Regions from separate parts of the Homo sapiens genome. Here region 2 is linked to region 1. The links come from fine-mapping of genetic effects on gene expression. A gene starts in region 1. The other region holds a variant in brackets. All regions are shown on one strand. Distances are between the middles of the regions.

Region 1 (8,392 bases):
TAGTTACAATTAGCTCCAAGGTCTTTTCCAGCATTTATCTTTTATGATTCTCTAAAGTTTTTTTAATTTCCAAGAAGTTATAATAAGTACTGGATAAGTAAAATGGCTTTGAAACCTCATCTCAGATATTCTGTTGGAGGCAAGTAGCAATTTTAAATTACTTTCTTCTAGGTATGTGAATTAAAGTTTAGAAAAATGTGAAGCTTTTACATTTGATAGGGTGAAAATTTATATCCTATTTAAGAGAAGTATGAGGAAATTTTTGGTAATGAGAGAAGCCACAAGTATGAGTGGTTCTTTAGAAACTTGTTCTATGAGAATTAAAAAGAGATTTTTTCCAGGGAAAGAACAAAGGAAATGTCACAGAGGGACTATGACTGCATCTGCACATCCTGAAAGGTTTGCTGAAGGAGAGAAGGGTCAGTTTTTGTTGTCCAGGAGGGACGATGGAAGTGAGCCCCAAATAAATAGAGGACACCGAAGGTGAATTGTCAGGTGTGTGTTCATATTTTACATAGTCAGCTAAAGTTGTTGCTTTTGCTCTTATCCTACATTGAGAAGTTAGAATTCATTATTTTTATTTTTATTGATTACTCTGTGATCAGTTTTGGTGAACACTTTTTGTTTTATTCACTTCAGTTTGATCTGATGCAATTTCAATGGCTTCATGAATTTGAGTACACACGACTTCAGGCTTGTAGACATTCTAACCTTGTGTGACTCCCTTTAACCCCATTCCTGCAAATCTGCTTGAGGAAAAACTATGAAGAACCTTCTCCCTCAAACAACAAATGGAGTTACTAAAGTGATAGAGGGATCTCTCATTAGCAGCTTTTCTCTGTTTGTGTTGAAATGTGGTTAATGCTCATACTTCTCACTCCTTATCTCTCTAGAAAGGGGAAGTTTAATAGAGCTATAATTTAGTAGTGTGGGGTGTAACCTGCTGTTAATATCTGCCAGGTCACTGGAAGATCTTCTTCATTATATTCTTAGCATTTTGTGACAACTTTTGAACAGGTTCTTTAAATAAATGTGTATTCCCAGATGCTTTAGGGATTGAGATATCCTTTTCACACAATGCTAAAAAGAAAGATTCTCTAAATTCCAAAGGGCATTCATTCTCCCCTTAATTCTCCTCTCCTCTCCTTTTGGTTTTCTTTTCACTCAATAGTTAGACCAGTGCACCTTTCACAAGAATACACTCAAGTTTCAAGATCTGTACCTTCTTTAACTTATGTACATGTATGTTTATAGGGGTCTGGTTGAAGAGAAGGAGGTCAAGGCAGAAACACCTAGCTCCCAGAGGGTTACTTGGAGGACCAGAGGTTTTAGGAAATACGGTGTGTCTCAATCTGTCTGCAAGTTTCCATACCAAAGTGAGTAACCATGGATAAGGAGTAAATTGCTGTTTCTAACTTTTAACTTACAAATAAGCACTCAACATTACACTTTTCAGGAGACTTAGGGTTGGTTTTGTTGACGTGACCCATCTGTTAGTTAAAAACATGTTTTAAGGAGTTTTTTATTTTAACTCATAGTATAGCTTTTAGAATTATGACTAGCAAATTACTGTGGGTTTTTAAATATGGGGCAAACCTGAAATCATTTTCATCATTAGAACCAAGCTGTTCTTTTCTGCTAAAGAAGGAGGGCTAAGAAGAAGGGCATAGTAGAGATGGATCTTATACTCTCATTGATTAAAAAACAACAAACAAATAAAAAGACAAGAGCAGACATGGATTTTTGCTCTTCCCCATCCCCTCATGTTCACATAAATGAGGGTTGGGAGAAGTTGCGTTTCGTAACAGAGCTCCTAATCTTGCTTTTCTCCTAGGGCACTTCTGTGATTCCTCCAGCTTCTCTTTCAAGTCCCTTTTCACCCCAATCCTCTTCTCCTTGATTTTTATTTCATAAATAGGAATAAAGTGGCATATGTTTTCTGATCATGAAAAGGATATCATTTTATAATTTTGACAGTAGTAGAACATCTAAAATGCACATTTCTGTAGGATCAGCAAGCCCTCAAAATCAGTAGAGCTCCCTTCTTGTGTCTCTAGTGAAAGCGGCAGCTTCTCATCTTATCTTTTCTGAGAAACATTAAGAAGTCCTCCCAAGTCTGCCTCAATGGCATTGGTTGGGTATAGTCATGGACTTGATCAAGAGGCAGCTATATAATGGCAAAAAGAGGAGACTCACGTGAAGTATCCACATCCCATGCAGAAGGGGAGATTTGGGGGCGACTACATGAAACTTCGACACTGATTTTTCTAAAAGCTTAAGAAGAGCAGTGTCATCTTGCTTGGTATGTACCCTATGGAGAAAGGATAGCTTTGCTCCTGGGAAACTTAGATCATGAGCAATCTAAGATGATCTCACTCAGTTATTTAGGGGCTTGAACTTGATGGGACATAGGGAAGGCAGTTACTGTTTAACGGTCCATAGCTGGTCCGGTGGATTAATTGCCAGAGAAAGCAGAAGTAAACCCTTGGAGAATACTTTTATCCCCAAACTTAGGAATAACTGGAAGCTCATTTAAACTGGGAGCATTTCCCCCTCCACCCCAAGAAAAGATAACTTCCCTCAAGGGGATCTGGTGAATGAAGCAGCGTATTTTCATCCTTGTGATAATGGGTGTGAGTCAGGCACTACCATAAAAGAAGAATTAACTTGAATGTGCCACATACTTGGTCTGGCCTTGTCCCATACCTGTACTCTTGTCATGGTTGATTACCTATGTGCATCAGATATAAAGCAAGCAGTCTGCATTGTGGCATGAGATAAAAGGTATGTTAATATGCTCAGGTCACATACTATCTTGGCCAATAGTAATTTTATATAATTTGCTTAAAGGAAACTGCACTTCTTGCAATATTTTTTTCCAATGAAGAAAAATTTAACGTGACAGAAGCTTTATATATAACTCTTGCATTTGAGTAACAGCATTGAATCCTCTCCATCTCAAGCAGAACTTTTAAATATTTTTATTACTTTTGATATGCAAAAGCTAAGGAGAAATGGTTTGGAAGACCTAAGTTAAATTTCTAATGAGTCTTGTTTCTTTAATAGGGGAGAATTTCATACAGCTTCGGTGAGTTTTTTCTTTCCACATGAGATAATATAAACAAACAAAAAAATAAAAAAGTGAAACATTTCTCTTCTTACTTTAAGAACCTTAAGGGCTAAAAGAGTGGTTTGGTTTCCTGACTGGTACTTTTGGTTTGCCTTCTCTAAGTGGTCTTGAGCAATTCCCCAGAGGAAACATTTGAAGAGGGTTTTTCTCCCACTTGAGAGAGTTTCATCCCACACAACCCACAGAATTTGATGGCAAACTTCATGGACCAAGTGTCTGGTTTTACAGAAGTGGCTGTGGAGTATGTTTTTCCTTTCACAGGTGCACATTTATTCTACCTTAGGAATAAGAAGAGATCATTTTCTTTTAAAGAGGGTAGCTTAAACACTGAATATCTCTGATAATTGGATGCCAGTCAGGTAGGTTGTGATTTACTAAATGCGGGGGAAAAAAGGTGGAAAGAAGGATTAAAACTTCCAAAGCCTTTCTCGCTGATCTTTCTTTACAACCATCTGGTGTGCACAGAAGTATTGTATAATCTGGCCTGTATTATTCTCTTACTGTGAAACATATTGAAACACTTTATGTTTAGGTGTGTGTACAGAAATTCATGAAGTTCTTTTATACACTTTCTTAGTTCCATCGTAATTCTCATTTTAGGATGTCGTGAAAAGATAGCCTGGTGAGAGAGCACATTCTACCCTGGCTTGTGAATTTGGATTTGTTCCTTCCTATCTACCAGCCACCTGATTACTTACTGTCCCCGTGCAAAGGGCACCCGTTCACATCATTTTTTTCCAAGCGCTAAAACCTGGAAAGATATTTTTTTAAAGGACTCACAGAAGCTGTCTTGGGGGTTTGGAAAACATCACAAAATTGTTAGCAGACCTTTTGACTGTGCTATTTTTAGGAAGTTAACTGTGTTCTTTTAAAGTACATTTTTGACAATGGGACAACGTTTTCCTTGCCCCCACTGATGTGTGAAATATGTACAGTGAAAAACGTCAGTACAACACCCCAAACAGATACATTTTAACCTAAGCAACAGTCAGCAACAGGAGAAAAAGTGATTTAAAAAGAGAAAGGTTTCGCAATATTTATGCTGCTGTTTCTTCCCTGAAGGAGCTTTTATTTTACCATTCAAACAGAAGTTTGTTTTCAAACCAGTTGCTAGTTAAAGGAGCAGCGGATCGCGCATCCGTAAGAATCAGCTCTAACCAAACAGCAAACGCGTTGGCCAGAGGGTGACTTATTCCCCCATAGCAACCCCTGGTAGGTGAGCTGCCTGCAGAAGTGCTGTCTTACCTTGAGCACGTAAGATCAGGGAGAGAGGCTCGCTGGCTCCCACGGAGAGGATCGGGGAAGGGCTGTGATCCGCTGCTGGTAACATGCACTTGGCTTTTATGGGCAGGTGGGAGGAGCTGCTCCTCATAGTAGGTGGGCAGGGAAGGAGCGGCGGGCGGGCAGCCTCTGGAGGAGCTGGACACTCTTCTCTGGGGAGGGGCGGGCAGAGACTGGAGCCCGCAAGGCGGAGGAGAGACGACGGGGCGGGGGGAGGGGGAGCGCGGTCACAACGGAGGAAGGAGTGGAAAAGGGAGAGAGAGGGAGAAGGGAAAAAAGAGAGGGAACTAGAAATAGTGAAAGGGATCTTGACCACAGATGGGGAAAGGTGGGGGAGAAAATGAATAGCAGAGACAGAGAGAGAGAGAGTGTCTGGGAGGAAAGGGGAATCGGAGTATTTTCCGTTTTTGCATGACATTTTTTGGCAGAGGGAGTTGTGGGTGATTGTGACTTTTGAAGGTGTTTTCTGTGAATTTGGGAATTTGAAAAGCTACATAGCGGTCCGGGAGAACTGAAGGGTTTCTAAGCGAGGCAAGGGAGGTGAAGCTGGGCGTCCGGGCAGCAGAGCCAAAGTTCAGGGTGGACCCGGACCTGGAGCTGGAGGCACTGACATGGCCTGGAGCCAGGCAGCCCCCAGCCCTCAGCCCCGTCCCACCGCCCGCGGGTGAAAATCGCCCCATCCCTCTCCCTCCAGGCAAGGCTTATTTGACAAGGAAGTTCCTGCGCTGCCTGTCCTCTGAGCATCCAGAGGCCCCTTTTGAGACTTCGGCAGCATTAAAGTAAATCCAGCAACGGGGAGGATTCGCGTGGACTTGCTTGTGGAGACAGGAACCTCAGAACCAGCCTGGGTCTTCCAGCATCTGCTTATGTAACGTAGGATTTCAGAGCTCTCTGCCCTCTGGTTATTTTCGGTATTTAAAACACTCTCATTCCTAACAATCGGAAAACGTCTTGGTGCCACAGTTCTTTCTCAGTGTGTCTTAAACATTAAGAGAGGATTCAACCAACAAGTGGCTAAAGGATCAGTCTGAAATTACTAAGAAATGCATTCAGAGAAAGAAAAACAAGCTCCTTTCGCTGCTGAGTGGTGACTCACTTCCTAGCCCAAGCCTGATTTTTGCCACCAAAGGAATTAAAGCATTTTAAAAGAGAACCTGAGACTTGGGGTGGGAGATACAGTACCGGGAGGGGGAAAAGGCGGGAATGGGAGGGGGGAGGGATGGGTAGGCTGGAAATAATAAAGGAACGAACTTGTACTGAATATGTATATATGTACTTCATTCAGTGTTCACCGCAACCTTATGAGGTAGGTATGATTCATATTGTGCAGATTTATTTATTTTTTTTTTAATTTAAAGAAAGGCATCTCTAAGGGTTTAAATAACTAGCTCAAGCTAGCGAGAGGGGGAGCCACAGCTAGCGAGCTTGCAAACCTTAGGCACTCTTCAGTACACCAGGCTGCCGTATAGAACACCTAGGTTCGTCTCAGGTTAGATCCTGATGTCATTGGCTGGTAGCAGGCTCCAAGAGAAGGAAACTTGATGGTGAAGAGCAGAATTACTCAAACTTAGCACTACTGAAACTTTCGGGAGAATATTTCTCTGTTGTAGGGACCTCTCCTGTGCACTGTAGAATGTTAAGCAGTGTCCGTGGCCTCTACCCACCAGATGCCAGTAGCAGTACCCACTCCGCACTCGCCACCCAGCTGTGAAAATAAAAAATGTCTCTAGATTTAGCCAAATGTCGCTGAGGGACAAAATCCCCTCCTCTTCTTAAGAACTATTCGTCTAAAAAAGGCCCACAACTATAAAAAAGCATTTTAAAAGAATCTATTAAGAAAATACCCAGTAGTGCCATTTGGATAATAATAATACCTACGTCCATATGTGCCGAGTTTACACAGCACTTAGGTTTTTACATACGTATTTCCATCTGTTAGCTTCAAGAGCTCAAAGCCTCAATTACTTCCTTTGTAACTAAGCTTATTCTCAATTGGTTACGTCTGGGAGTCAACGAAATAAACTCCCATGTGCCCGGGATATGAGGCAAGAACAATCATATATGAAATAAAAAATTTAAAATTTTTATCGTAAACACAAATTTGACACCAGAGTTTTCAAATTTACTCACGATGTTTTGCATTATTGATTATTCGCCTTTTTATAATTTTTTATCTCTATGTTCCCTATTCAAATTATATTCAATAATTTTTTGGCTGCACAAAGTTATAACTAGTGGCTTACTAGCTAGTAAAAAATAAGTGCTCAATAAATATGTATAGTCTCGCTAATTGAATAAACAGCAATATTGAGGACTGACAATAGAGAATGGTCAGCATTTGTTAGTTTAATGAATGCTTAGAAAGCTAAAACTTTCACATCAACTTTCTGCCCGTTTGCTGTTTGGTTTTACTCTCTTCTTACCCTCCATAACTCAGTTTTCCTCTTCCCAAATAGTATGTCTTTTGAGGATGTGGCCAAATCTACTGAGTGAAGTCTGTCAAACGAGTAACACTTGTTACTAGACCTAGAAATAGGACTGCATTATCTATTCTTGGACATAACGCTGAAATCAGATGTGATTTTACAAGCACAATACCACTTTTGGAACTTTTTAATTTAGCAAAGAAATGTGTTCTGGGGAAACAAAATGGGACTTTTAGAGGAGAAGCTGGGTGATAAAGTATGTTAGTAAATACCCTTATCAGATTACAACAAATCATCTTTTCTATCCTAAGTTAATTCTTCTCAAACATTCCAGTTCCATCACATACGTATGAAAAAAAAAAAATACCAGAAAGGCAAGAAAAGCACATTTGAAGAAAAGACAATTGATGGCTGTAGGCTGAATTTCTCTTCTTATTTTTAATTCTTTCTTCCTTTCAAACCAGCCAACATAACAAAAGCACTGCTTTCATTTTTTTGGATGGCACTAATAATTAGTTCATTTCTCCCATTCACACTTACCTGAATCTGATTCAGTAGCAGATCTGGACAACAAGTCAGGAATCCAGGAATGTCGTCTCTTTGCTGACTCTTAGTGTGCCCTTCCTAGAATCTCTCTGAAGGTGACTGAGGTTTGAAATGACCTAGTTTGGTCTTCTGTGGAAGGAAAGGAATCCAATGACAACATACTAGATGCTCTGAAGTTTCCATTGTGTGGCTATAACAGCTACAGATCATTACCTTACTTTTGAGAGCTTTGCAAATGTAACCCTTTTTTGGAGTTTATTTAGAATTAATCAGTTAACAAATATTTATTAAGAATGGATATCAGACAATGTGAGGTATTCAAAGCAGAGGAAAATATGACATCTTTTCTCACAGAGGAAGAAAAGCATGAAATCCTGATAGTTGAATTTTAGTAAAGAGACTTCAGGGAGGAGGTGGCATTTGAGCTGAGCCATGGAAAGTAGCATTTGAATAGACGAGTGATGGACAGTAGTACATTCCAGGCAAGGGAGGATATGTGTGCAACCAGGGAAATCACAGGAATATTCAGAAGGTGGTGAATTGGCCAGCATGACTGTATAGAAAGGTCCATGTGGTAGAACAATGAGGCTGAGAAATGGAGAGGAGGGATGAGGAGGGATGAGGTCACCTCAGTAGTCTGAAGTATAAACTATATTCTGTAGGCAATGCAGAATCAATGAAGACTTTTGAGCAATAGAATGGCATGGTGAAAGTGGCATATTTTCAAGATTTCATTTTTCTTTGAATATAGGGTCTTTATTGTGGCTTTGCAGATAAATGCTTGCCTGTGCATCTCAGACTGATAGCATACTTAGAAATAGAGAAAACAGAGTGTCTGCATCCTGCAGACTTGGAGGCCTGAGCAAGGTGGCAGAAACAGTAGTGGTTCTAGCCCAGTTTTCCCTGGAGTGTCCTGTATGGTTGTAGGAAGGGGGTAGGAAGGCAGGACCCTCTCACGGTGTGGCCAGGGTGACATATGGGATTCACATAAAGAGTGATGTCTTCTCTG
Region 2 (8,392 bases), 96 kb after region 1:
TGTGAAGATTAACTGAGATGATTCATATAAGACATTGAGTGCAGGGCCTAGCAAATAGTAAGTGCTCATTAAATGATGATGATGGTGATGATAATGGTGATGGATGCTAAATTACTTAATATATCTGAATACTTCCTGTTTAATCTACATCACAGTATTGGGAAGTCATGTAAAAATGAGAAAAAAATATATGAAAGCACTCTGGAAACTACTTAATTCTAATGTACAACATTAATAATAGTAACAATGGGAGTGGTAAGTAATGGTAAGCATAAATGTTTCACGTGGATCTAACTCCTAAGTCATGCAAGGAGCACTCAGTTCTGTTCAGAACATACTGTGTTCTCTTTCTCTTTCTGTTTCCTTGCTTGGGAAATCAAGAGTTATGACTGGGAATGTAGTTTAAATGAGCCAGCAAAACACTCATCAAACGGTTTATTTTCCTAATCTTGGTGTATCAATTTCAAAACCTGAAAAGTTCATTTCATATTTCACAGGCTCTTTTATATATAGTGTCATAAATGCCAAGAAAGTTGTTGACTTAACTTTACATTTGTGAAAAGTAACCCTTAGTTGGCAAACAAATACTCCTGAACTGAAGGAGATAAGCTTCCTGTATACTTGCAAGTCGCTGCTTTTTGTTTTGTTTCATTTTCAAAAAACAAAAGACTTTTGGTTGCTTAAATTCTTATCACAAATAGCACAAATTTCCAGATTCTCAGCTGTGTTGAGGTCTCTAGCAGAAGTTCATTGCATTTTCTGCCAGCATTCTCCTTTAGAGGTGCTTTTACAACCAATCTTTAAGCTTGCTAAGGTTCAAATCACAGCTAACTCTTCCTGTTCAAAGCCACTGAAGAAAGACATATTTCAGAGAATCTAAACGTGGGAAAATTCTGTGCATAATCTCAGAACTTCAACTTTCTATCCCATCAAATTTGACTTAATAAAACTTCTCTTTCTCTCCTCTTTGTTTAGCAATATTAATGAAAAATGAATACAGGGTAAGAAACAGAAGGAAAAGAGGCAAAAATAGAGTATGGAGTACTTAAAATTTGTAACTAGCCTTTGAAGCATTTTTATTCATGTTATTCGGCAGATGCCTTCTGAAAAGTTTTCTGTTCAACAGAGTCATAAAATGTTAGCCCTAGAAGGTGCCTTGAAGACCACGATGAGTTAACTTTCTTCCTTTGCCAAGGAAGAAGCGATTACTTCAGCAACTGGTGGGTATCTCTTATATACGAGTGTTATGCTCACTGTGCTTTTCTGCATCTCTCTTGTTAGGTCTTGGTTATCACATAAACACTTGCCAGCAATCAGTATAATCAGTGTTGGCAAAACACAAATGTTAATGCCTTTTAATCAGCTAGGCTTTTAGAAAACTTGGGCTGAAAGCCCGGAATAATCCTACTTAGCTCTACAGATGAATGGTGCAGCAAGTTTTAAGAATTTTCATTCTTAATTAATGATGGTGACAGAAATGGCAGTTGTGTTCACAGTGATAGAAAAAAACCACATAGTCATGTGTTGTGTGGGCATGTGGGTGTGTGTGTCCTGACCTCACCACATGTTTCACATTCCCAACTTTCTTCTTACATTTCCTTCTAGCTTCTGTATTATTTAGCAATAAGCCTGGGGCAAGACACTGCCTCTGCTACCAAATGTTAGTGGAGCAAATACACCATTAATATTTCTTTGGCACGTGGGGAGGCGGGACATCTATGCAGTTTGTCCTTCCCAGATATCCTCATGTAGACCAAGTTGACCAATTTCTTTTCATAACTCAGGCCCTTTTGGCCGTGGGCCTATCTCTGTTCCTTCCATTTCCTTTCACTGCTTCCTGATAAGAAGTATAAGATTTGATGCCCTGAGTCAGAGGGTGAGGATATTTCTACTGCTAGCACATGCAGGTCAAAATCTGCTAGCACTTCTGCGGTTCCACACCCATGGATTCAACCAAATGCAGATTGAAAATATTCGGAAAAATAATTGCATCTGTACTGAATAGTACAGACTTTTTTTCTTGTCATTATCCCCTAAGTAGTACAGTATAATAGCTACTTACATAGCATTTATGTGTATTAGATATTATAACTACTCTAGAGGTGACTTAAAGATTATGAGAGAATGTACATAGGCTATATGCGAATACTATCTCATTTTATATCAGGGACTTGAGCATCCTCGAATTTTGGTATCTGTGGGGGCTACTGAAACCAATCCCCCACTGATAACAAGAGAGGACTGAAACCTTGGAACCTAGTAGTTGACACCTTAGAACCTAGGCATTTAATAACAACAAAAAAAGCCATTTATTCACTTAAGCTTGTGATTTTGGAACAAATTTTTGATGAGTAATCAGGATGAATAATAAAATTTACTTGATTATAAGAAAAGAGCTGCATTTCAAGAACTATGTTCACCTAAACATATTCTCCATAATTAGAACACTTTGGATTTAAAATCTTACCCTGAAGTACGTGCCAGTGATTGCCCTAAAAACCTTTCTATGGACAGTTACATATCCTTGATGAAATGAGCACTATAGGGACACCACTGTCTAGTTTCACCCTAATACTTCTGCTGAGGCTTTTCCTCCACACCTCCACAGCCTCTCTGCCTGTCAAGAACTCTACTCTTTGGGAGGGGCTTAAAGTACCCTAAGCTGTAGAACACAATGAGGGGTCTATGTAGTGTCTCTGATGGAGAGCAGCATACTCCAGGCATGAGTGAGCATCTTTTTGCTGGCACTTCCACCGTGGCTTGCCAGCAGCTGTTGATGCATGGTGTTTTCTGAGAGAGATGAGCAGCTAATGTGATCCTTTAGCATAAGCAGATGAGGAACTCAAGCAAGGGACCTTGAGGTGGGAGAGGATGTGGGGATGGGCTGCAAAAAGTGGTTTTGCTTTGACTTCCAAGAGGATCCCTGTGCTGGACAGACAGACTGTTTTCTAATACATCAGCTTCTTCTAGTCATAGATCCCTCCCCCACATCAGGGTTCTCCTCTACCCAAAGTTGTTTAATTGGTATTCTTTGAGAAACACTTTTATTGTCTGAGATTATGACCTTTCCCCATTTTTAAACTTAAAATGCTTGTTGTTCACAAAATGAGGGTGATGATAGATGGTATTTCTTATTTTTGATGGGCCAACTTGGCAAAATTGACACTTGGCAGTTTTCTGACAATTCTCTACATTTTACAAAAAATTTACTGGTTGTTGAATTCCCAAAGTTGCGAAACTAGGGTGTTCAGGTCTTCGGAACAAGGGTAGCCAGGAAAGCTTGGAGGGGAAAAGGAAGATCTTGCAGACACTATAAATAAGGCAGACAAGGACATTGAGTG[C/A]CAGAGGAAGGGAGGAGCAAACAGGTACTAGACAGGAAATGGGTTAAGTCAGAGGAAGTGAGATTAAGCAGCAAGGAATGGGCCTTGCAAAATCGATAGAAAGGAATGTGAAAAAGAAGTGACCTCAGGGGCAGGGTTGCAGCACAGGTGCTGGTGCATGTGGTAGTCTTGGAACTGGAATAAATGCCAGGTAAGTCAGACCTTGAAACCCCACTGCTACTTTGTCACAATGAAGGAGTAGAGGTTGCTAGAGGCTTCTGATTCAGTAGAAAGGGAACTCAGATGTGATATCTTCCTTCAACTTAGAACACACATAGTGGGGCTAGCCATGGGGTTTTCTGTGTTAGCAGAGGGAGGGAAATGTGATAACAGTGTCACAGGCTGCCAGGACAAGGGGAGACAGGCACCTCTCCAAAATCTCCAGAACATAACAGGAAATAGCAAGATCAGCATCTTCACCCAAAACAGATATTGTTAATGTTTTTAACACTTACATCCAAATATAATGGATGATAAAACAGATAATACATTGCTGTTTCAATTCATATTTTCCTGATTAGTAGAGATTCGACAGCTTTTCTGACTTTCAGAGTCATTTGTACTTCTTTTCAAATTGCCTATTTGAAATTGACCATTTAGTTTTCTGGCTATTAGAATGTATTAAGGGATAGAATATGGTGTGGTTTTGTTTTTGCTTTTTTAGAGACAGTGTTTCACTCTGTTGCCTAGGCTGGAGTGTAGTGGCAAGATCATAACACGTTGCAGCCTTGAACTCCTGAGTTTTTTAAATTTTTACCTACCTATTTACATATGAGATTAAGATCTTGACCTTGGACTCAGAGAGCCTGGGTTCAACTCTTGGCTTTGCTACTTATGTGTGATCTACTTCTTAGAGCTTCAAGTACATAATCATTAATGAGGAAATTCTATGTAAAGGGCTTAGCACAAGATTTGGCACCGTACATGAATGGTTGTGATTGTATTTAATAAAAAAAAATTCAGATCACTAATAATAAAGACCAACTCCACTCATCCACTCTAGTCAGTTAATTCTGCTTCAACCTGAAACTTAGGCTGGGGTTCACACTGGGGTTTCTATTCTGAGTTGTGCTGTTAACTGCTATTCCTGAGATACAGGATAAACACTATAGATATAGATATGGATGAGATATTATTGCACCTCATCTGCTCACTTTATTATGTATTAGTTACCTCTTATAAATAGTTTAGAAACTAATGATTAATGATATTCATATATAATCATATCTAAGATCTATATCTGGTATAACTATTCTTGTTTTATATTTTATTATACTGGAACAGCTCGTGTCCTTGGTCTCTTGCCTCGGCGCCTGGGTGGCTTGCTGCCCACAACAATCGTTATTGAGTTGTAAGTTATGATAGCAATAACTGAAGTGAATGATGCTTTGAGTATATGAAAAAGGGAATAAAGTTCCAGTTTTCCGCTAGAATATTTTGGAGAATTATTTGTCATTATTATCAATAACTATAATATGAAACTGTTAATATAATTTAAAATATCCTTATACCAAAGGTATAACTAAGGTCATTTCATGAAAATTGATAATTTCTCTTAAGAATTCTATTAAGAATATATGTGACTAAATAATTTTGAGAGAAAATATGGAATGTTTCTTCTTTTTCCTCTTATTACTGAATTATGTGTAAAGCTATAAAATGTTACATAAAGGACTTATAAATGTCACCCCAGTCTCTCTTACCAATAATTTTTATTTTATGAAACTGGAATTTCTATTAAAATGAAATAGGTAGAATTAGGAATTTACAGTAATAATCTTGATAGCTCTGTGCTTCAGAGACTATTTCCCATTGATCTCTACAAATTACATGGAACTTTTGAGAGGAAGCAGATGTTATGTCCTCTTGGTGGATATCAAATGCATGTGGTCATGAAGGGGCTTGTTGAGTGAAAGCATGCAAGAAACCAGACTGGCATCACAATCTAAGTCTGTCAGTTCCCAAAAGTGGACCCCTGGGGCTCAAACAAAGCCAAGGGTTGAGGCAATTAGGCTGATGATTACTTCAACTGCCCTGCTTCTTGCATCTCTAAATGGTGCTTCTATCAATTCTAGGAAAATGAACAATTATGAAACAGTGTTTGGATTTACTTCTAACTCAGGTGGCTTTCCTCATTATAATCCTATAGGCTGTGGCGAATGGCATAATGTCTATTCATCTCCAGGTTTTGCAGAATGAAAGAGATAAAGTAAATGGGACATAATTCTTTATTTTAGAAGGAATTTGTTTTCTAAATGAGAATGTAAATGGGATGATACGTATGAACATGGACATGACAGTATCAGGTCATCACTGAGAACAACCAAGCATCTGCTGGTAGCCTGTGTGATAAAACTTCAGCTGAATGGACAGAAATATCATCAGAAACAAAGTTTGTGTTGGTGGACTGACACCATCAGGATTGACCTTTCTGGTTTGGTGACTGATGGGATTACAGGATTAGGTGCACCAAAGAAGTCATCTCAAGTCTTTACAGGTTACTTGTTACACCAGAGTTTTGTCTTTCTGACTCTCATATGTGCTGCTCTATCATGGAATTTTCATGCTCCATTAAAAATTAGATGTGATTTTTTTTGAAAGAGGATGAAGGCAAGGGATTGAGAGAGAATTCTTTTCAGACAATGGCAAATATAGTGAATTTTACTACTCAGAAAAAAATAACTCTTAGATAAGTTTCTTAGAGATCTCTATTATATAATAGCACAAAATATACATGGCCATGATGTGTTTGATGCAGGCTGTCATGAGTGAATGACACAATTGAAAATAAACTAAACTCCCACATGCCCAACAAAGTCCAGGCAATGGTGTTGATAACCACAATACACAGACTCAAGGGCATTTGGTGCCAGGTTCCAAGGGAGCTGCATTGTATCTTCAAGTTAAAGCCAGTCACAGAACTATCACCAGAGGCTGAGTATGCCATGCTACTGAGCAAGATCTCCTAAGAGTGGCACAAGGCAGCATTGCAGCTGGACTGCATGGAACAATGAAACACATCTGGACTACAAATGGAACACCTGGGTCCTAGTCTCAGCTTTGTCCTTCAGTAGTTGTGATTTCATGGATAAATCATTGTACTTTTTACTATCCCCATTTATTTGTTTGTGAAACCAGAAGATAGGAATAGATTATTGTATTAGTCAGGGTTCTCTAGAGGGACAGAACTAATAGGATGGGAGTTTATTAAGTTACACGAACACATGATCTCACAATAGGCTGTCTGCAAGGTGAGGAGCAAGGAGAGCCAGTCCAAGTAACAAAACGGAAGAACTTGGAATCCAATGTTCAAGGGCAGGAAGCATCCAGCATGGGAGAAAGATGTAGGCTGGGAGGCTATGCCAATCTAGTCTTTTCATGTTTTTCCTGCCTGCTTTTTATTCTGGCCACAATGGTGGGTGACTAGATGGTGCCCACCCAGATCGAGGGTCCATCTAACTTTCCCAGTCCACTGACTCAAATGCTAATCTCCTTTGGCAGCACCCTCACAGAGACACCCAGAATCTATACTTTGCGTCCTTCAATCCAATCAAGTTGACACTCAGTATTAACCACAATTATTTTCAAGGTTTTTTTTTAGCTCTAAAATGTTAATGATTTGCCAGTATAACTGGCAATCAATTGTCACCCTCTTTCTTTTGTTTGTTTTTCATTTTTAAAGTGAAGGGTTTAAATGTATAATGTTTTCTCTTGGTTTATCCATATGTACTTTTATTTCAGTGAATGGAGAAACACAATTGACATTTAAATTAAGGACTATTGCAAATACGATATCTGTCTTTCTTGAGGCTATAGTTCTGTAGGAATAAATAATATTCTTTGATAGCTGGGATATGACCAAAATTCCACAGAAATAGGACAAAACAATGCTTACCCTAGTTGCCAGAAAGTTGGCTTTCAACAAATGCATAATTTTCTGGTATTTTTGATCTCAAACTCCACCCTACTGCAAAAATGCAATTTGAGCCAAATACCATACACCATATCCAGGGATGAGGTAAATTTAATCTCTTTTGGTTCTGGATGAAATTCAACTGATTTTTTTTTTTTTTTTTTTACTATTTTGGTACAGTCTTCAATAGGAATCATTATCCTATTTAATAGACTATATTTTTCAAAAATATGTGGGCAGTAAAGATAGTATCATAAAAATTATATCCACCAAAGTCAATCTTTCTAATAAATAGTTGGCAGCTCTAAATTATAATGAGAACCTCTAATTTATTTTGAGCCCCCAATTTATTAAAAATGCTTTAAAGAGATATCATCTATATTTTATTCAACCATTTTCCATTAAATGTACAGTTTTGTCAGATTAATTTTAGTTAGATTAAAGCAGAGATTCCTTCTTCCTTTAAAAATGCAATGTTTACAGTCTAGTCTGCACTCATTTAGGTATTTCGTCAAGTATGATGTTTGTTTTCTATCAACTCACAATTATGGAAAACAGTCTCCATAATAAAATAAAATAAAAGCATACATTCACGATAGAGTCACAGTAAACATATATGGCATGCATGTGATACATACACATGACAGAATTAACTCTTTACTAAATAGTGACTGAATGTCTGCTGTAGTCAGGCACTTTATTATACACTGGAGGTACAGCAGTGAGCCCAAGAGACACAATTCCTAACTGACATAGCTTATTATCAACAGGGAATGATTGCTCCAAAGGCACATTAACTTCTTTCTCACACAAGTGTAGGAAGTGCAGCAAGCCCTGTTGCTGCCTGATGTGGCACAGCAATACTGAGTCTATGAACCAGAAGGAACTGAAAGATGCCTTTTGTACCTTTTGTGGAGTCCTGTGCACCCACCATGGACCCCAGAAAGAGATATTGGATATTTCTAGATTCCTGTAAGAGCAATTACCAGTACTTTAAGAGAAATTTCTGCCTCCAAACTGGATTTTCATTTTTCTGTTTGACTTTTTATGCTTTGGTAAGCATGAGAGGCAATATGATCTGATAGCTAAGAATCTGAGT

Evidence for each region. PIP is the estimated chance that this variant, and not a neighbour inherited with it, causes the effect.
Region 2: its variant is fine-mapped to the expression of COL8A1 in skeletal muscle (GTEx, PIP above 0.99). The same link has a PIP of 0.9 or more in subcutaneous fat and thyroid.

The regions. Positions count from the first base shown.
Region 1 is chr3:99,634,648-99,643,039 of GRCh38, reverse strand. COL8A1 (collagen type VIII alpha 1 chain) reads right to left here and starts at 4,446. Exons shown (of 4, transcript NM_020351.4): 1 at 4,376-4,446. It overlaps LOC124909401 (a long non-coding RNA gene), which reads left to right and starts at 4,360. Exons shown (of 2, transcript XR_007095981.1): 1 at 4,360-4,453; 2 at 5,106-5,672.
Region 2 is chr3:99,538,346-99,546,737 of GRCh38, reverse strand. The region is part of intron 1 of LOC105374007 (a long non-coding RNA gene); the gene reads left to right. LOC105374005 (a long non-coding RNA gene) reads left to right here. Exons shown (of 5, transcript XR_007095985.1): 1 at 1-1,220. Among named protein-coding and RNA genes, the nearest start is that of COL8A1, 96 kb to the left of the region's middle. The variant C/A (reference allele first, on the strand shown) is at 3,342.